2 separate regions of the Homo sapiens genome follow, and region 1 is linked to region 2. Evidence: fine-mapped expression QTL. A gene starts in region 2. The other region holds a variant in brackets. All regions are shown on one strand. Distances are from middle to middle.

The links. PIP is the estimated chance that this variant, and not a neighbour inherited with it, causes the effect.
Region 1: its variant is fine-mapped to the expression of LRGUK in breast (GTEx, PIP 0.90).

Annotation. Positions count from the first base shown.
Region 1 is chr7:134,067,517-134,070,274 of GRCh38, reverse strand. It overlaps a transcript of EXOC4 not described here. Among named protein-coding and RNA genes, the nearest start is that of LRGUK, 58 kb to the left of the region's middle. The variant T/C (reference allele first, on the strand shown) is at 1,636.
Region 2 is chr7:134,125,914-134,128,413 of GRCh38, reverse strand. LRGUK (leucine rich repeats and guanylate kinase domain containing) reads right to left here and starts at 1,074. Exons shown (of 20, transcript NM_144648.3): 1 at 750-1,074. The coding sequence starts at 1,046. RefSeq lists enhancers at 792-1,061, 1,172-1,221.

The DNA.
Region 1 (2,758 bases), 58 kb after region 2:
TTTCACATCTGGTCACACGCTTATTAATTATGTACTTCTTATAACAACTGTGCCTAATTAGGACAGGGTTGACACCTTGCCGAGCCTAGTGATTCTTTATGTTTTCTTGTTCGTGGTACCTCATTACCCTCCCTCCAAATTATGTCCAATTTGTTTTACATTCCTGCCACATTAAGACAATCGCTCTCAGGTGTAGGTATTTCAGCACCCACTTTGCTTTCCAAGCAAAATTGTGTTGACCAGGACTCTCCTTGTTTTCACATCCTGCTAGAGGGACAGCCCCTTGGCTGGTCTTCTGATCACATCTGCCCTGAATGAAATGACTCTGGCTTGGAGCTGGCCCCTGGTCTCTCTCATTGGTTACTGTGAAATTTCTGTGCCCTGGTCCTAGGGAGGCAGCCACAGCTACACACCAAAGTAAGAATCCTGAATTCAATGGCCTCAGTCCATTCATAAAGGCTGTGGGGTGGGAATCCATTAGTTCCATCAAGAAATGGTAAAGGGGCCAGGTGTGGTGGCTCATGCCTGTAGTCCCAGCGCTTTGGGAGGCTGAGCCCCAGGGGTTTGAGACCAGCCTGGCCAACATGGTGAAATCCCATCTGTACTAAAAATACAAAAATTATCTGGGCATGGTCTGTAGTTCCAGCTACTTGAGAGGCAGAGGTGTGAGAATCGCTTGAACCCAGGAGGCAGAGGTTGCAGTGAGCTGAAATGGTGCCAATGCACTCCAGCCGGGGCAACAGAGTGAGACCTTGTCTCAAAGAAGAAGAAAGAAGAAAGGAGAAGAAGGAGGAGAAGAGGATGGAGGAGGAAGGAGAAGGAGGAGGAGCAGGAGAAGGAGGAGGAGAAGAGGAGGAAGGAGGAAGGAGAAGTAGGGGGAGAAGAGGCGGAGAAGGAGGAGAAGAGGGAGGAGGAAGAAGGAGAAGGAGGAGGAGAAGGAGGAGAAGGAGGGGGAGAAGGAAGAAAGGAGGAGGAGGAGAATGAGGGGGAGAAGGAGGAGGAGAAGAGGAGGGAGGAAGTAGGAGAATAAGGAGAATAAGGAGAAGAAGAAGGAGAAGAAGAAGAAGAACTGGTAAAGGGTGAACTGCTAGGTGTGCTAGCTAGTGGGGCACAGTGGATCGTGAGAGTCCTAAGCTTCCAGAGAAGCAAAGCTCAGAAGAGAGTGCACAGAGTCAGGCTGAAATTTGAGCTGTCTTCCTAAATGAAAGGGTGGTCACAGAGAATCGAGAGGGGAAATATGGACTCTGGGAAGGGTAGATCAGAGAGGAGTTGTAAGAAGCCAGTGGAAGTATAAGCTTTGTGTCACAAGGGGCTGTTTCTTTTGCCTGTCATTGCCCGACTCCCATATCAACCTGAGCTGTAACAGGCAATTCTATTTGACTGACTGAATGAATGCATTAGTGCTACGAAATTCACGGATATGACTTGACAGTAAGTAGCATTAGGGTTTGGTTGCCAATTCAAGTTGTCTGTATTGGAGTTTTTCCTCCCAAGCTATTTGAAACATAAATAAGGACCGTCGGGCTCAGAAAACATTCAGACAAGAATAAAGTCTTGGAGAGAGGGTGGGGCTTCTTGGAATGGGGTTACTCTGCAGAGGGCAGTAACTGCTGGAAGAGGATCCCACCAGATTAG[T/C]AGTAATGTAATAGAAGTAATAGTACCTAAGGATGGGCAAGATACAGCCCCTATATTAGTCCATTTTCATACTGCTATGAAGAAATACCTGACACTGGGTAATTTATAATGAAAAAGAGGTTTAATGGACTCACAGTTCCACATGGCTGGGGAGGCCTCACAATCATGGCGAAAGGTGAAGGAGGAGCAAAGTCACGTCTTACATGGCAGTAGGCAAGGAGAAATGTGTGGGAGAACTGCCCTTTATAAAACCATTGGATGCTGTGACACTAATTCACTATCATGTGAACAGCACTGGAAAAACTCACCCCCATGATTCATTAACCTCCTACCAGGTCCCTCCCCTGACACGTGGGATTATGGGAGCTGCAATTCAAGATGATATTTGGGTGGGGACACAGCCAAACTGTATCAGCTCCTTTCCTCAAGTAGGTCAGAAACAAGGAGGAAAGGTCATGAAAAGCAGAGGCTTTTCACAAGGTTTCCAGTGTGGTGTCAAGAGTTTCAAGAGGATGGGTTTCAAGAGTATGGGCTGTAGCAGCTCAGGCCTGGTCTTACCACTAAACTTGAGCTGATCTGGACATACTAAAAAATAAACTTGTCTTTCAGAGCCTGGAAGCAGGACTTGTCCTTAACCAGCAAGAGCAACCTGAGGAACCAATCCTTGTCTAATTATTGGGATGAAATCAGTGTGGAGGGGGAAAATGTTCTAGTTGGGCAGTAAGATTTCAAAGCCCTACTGTGAGGTAGGAATAAAAACACCGCCTAGGATGAGAGACCCTGAAAGAACCTGTATTAATAGAGCAGGTAGAAAGAAGTGCTTGTGGGGTAAGGGGCACAATATCACCCAAAGAGTAGTTTCATTTATAAATTGGAAGGTATACTGACAGGCAATAATATATAGCTAAAAGTAACCAAAAATATAGAAGAAACCACCACCAGCACTTCCAAGAACACAATTGCCTGTGTGTGTGTGTGTGTGTGTGTGTGTGTGTGTGTGTATATATATATATAAGAGTTGGGTCCTAGCTGATGAACTACCTCTTTTTCAAGGAATTTATTCCAACGAAGGCTAACTTGAAAGAGATTCTTTCAGTAGTTTCTGGGCCCTTGGGTATGGAAG
Region 2 (2,500 bases):
ATAAGAAAGAAGAGGAATTGTGTGGTGGTCAGAAGAGATATTGTAGAAAGGAGGGAATGGCAGTCATGTGAAACGCGAAGCCGCCATCCCAGTCAATATGGGTGGGATGATGGGAACATTCCCCACATCCTAAAATATTCCCACAATGAGCTGGCTGTTCGAACATTATAAGGCTCTTTTCTGGTGTGTGTGCATGTTGCTTGTATAAGGCATATGCCCCCGACAGAAGTAATGTATTCAACTTTTAAGTCACTTAGTCTTTGAAGAAGCACTTTCAAAAGCGGATTTTTTTTTTTTTTTTTTTCCTGGAGGGAGGCTGACGGGACTAGAACTGAGGAAGAGTGTGGAAGTATGTCATAGCCATGGGCAACAGGTGCTGGCAATGTCAGAGATGAACTCTGCCTATTCACAATACTGTCAAAGTATAATTTTGAAAAAGCTAAAGCCATAATTCCCAGACAATTATCTAGACACTCTTACAAAGTGACGCTGTGTTAACTCGACTCATAAGAAATCAAATGTGTTAATGAAAAAAGAAAGGAACTATTTAGAGCTATTTCAGGCAGGGGGTGAGAAAACGGGGTAAAAGACAGGGGAAGAAAAGAGGGGGAAGAGGCGTTCCTGGAGGCGAGAGAGCCTGAGAAGGTGTGGGAAGCTTCGGGCTGGTGGGGGTGCATCGGGGAGCTGCCGCTGAAGTAACAGGGCTGGACGAGGGAGCCAGGGAGTACGGGGTGGGGGGGAAGACACACCTCCAAATTCAGCATTTCGGACTCTGAGGACTCCTCGGATCCCGCCTCGCCCTCGCCCTGGTCCTCATCTCCGTCCGAGTCCAGCTCCTGATAGCGGTGCATGAGCTGCTGGAGCAGGTAGGAGGAGGCTATGTTAGAGCTGCCTTTCGTCTTCTGCCCCATGGGAAAAGACCAGCAAGGCTGACGCTCTTTTTCTGCGCGAAACTGTAACGATCGGGCTCCAGTTCGGGATCTGCCCAAGCCTCTCAGGAGAGAGGCAGCTCTGGTCCTCAGGAGAGCCCTCTCGGAGGTCGCCATCTTGTTTAGCGGGGTTGCCTAGGAGACTGACCCCAGGCAAGGGGAACCGCGGAGGATTCTGGGGCCTGTAGTCTCCTCCGCGCGTACTCGCCTTCTGCAGGCGGGGCAGTGGGCGCTCCACTTGACTTTTCTTTTTCTCAGTCTCTTCTGTTATTTTTCTCTCTTTGGTCTGTTCTGTTCGCTTATCTTTCCTGTTTTCACCTCTTTTCGCTACACCCCCTTTCTTTGTCTCCAGCTGTTTCCTCCCTACCCTGAGACCCCTCTTAGAGCTTTGTCATCCCACGATAGGATCGCAGGTGCGCCACCGTTGCCGCTTCATTCCCAAAGGGCTCTTTCCGCAGAGTCGTACTTTAGAAGTGTCTAATGTCTCTAAAGCAGTCTGTAGGAAAGCTAGTACCACTGAAATTTATGCAAAGCGCGACGCTAGGAGATGAGGGTGCATATAAGTGAAATAGAAGGCATGGTTCCTGTCCTTATGATTTAATTGCAGATAATAAAGAGAAACTACCAGACGACGCCTGAGAGCTGATTTCCAATTAATTTACATTCCCCACCCCCACCCCCCAATGATAAGCCTTGTCCTTGGGGAGAAAAACTGGCAGTGGTCTTACAATCCAAACAGAGAGAGAAAAAACTGCTGTCAAATTGACACTGTATCTGAAAGCGTCTGAAAAGCTATTAGCATCCCATAAATAATTATATTAGTCAAGTGACCTGCATTGGCAATTATTTTAATCTTGTTGCACAGGCTCTCTTTGCAGTTAAAAAAAATACTCTTTCAAGATAACAAAGCACGATTTTATGCTAGTGTGATTTTATGTGACCCAAATCCCATAGCCTTAAGCTCCACAACGTCGACACTCTATAGAAAAGCAGAATGAAAATTATAGTAACTATTATTGCCATAGTGATGACAATAGAGATCCTTGCAGGGAAGTAGCCCTCATCCTTCTGGCCTTACAGGGCCTTTTCTGCACGCTTCAATGACAGCAGTTGCAAATACAAAATGATCCTGTCAATGGCTGTCAGGGGAGAAGGAGAAAAAATCCTTATGGACACCATCCATTGACGATTATCTTTCTCAGTGCTTGAGGGACCGTTAAAACTGACATAAAGCTTTCAGAATTACCTTCCTTCATTATCTTGCTAGTCATAAATGTAAAGGCCACAAGCAAAATATCTCTTTCTGCCAGGCTCATCTTGCTTTTTGCTTATTTCTTTTTCCAATAAGTAGAGATTCCTCCAAGGGAATTTTCCCCACCCTTACCCTCGTAGGGCCTGGCTTCGGCTAAGTGACATAGGGAAGAATCAGGCAGAAAGTGTAAAAATGCAAATCTCGATCGTTTTTCTTTTTTTTTTTTTTTTTTTTGAGACGGAGTCTCGCTCTGTCGCCCAGGCTGGAGTGCAGTGGCGCGATCTCGGCTCACTGCAAGCTCCGCCTCCCGGGTTCACGC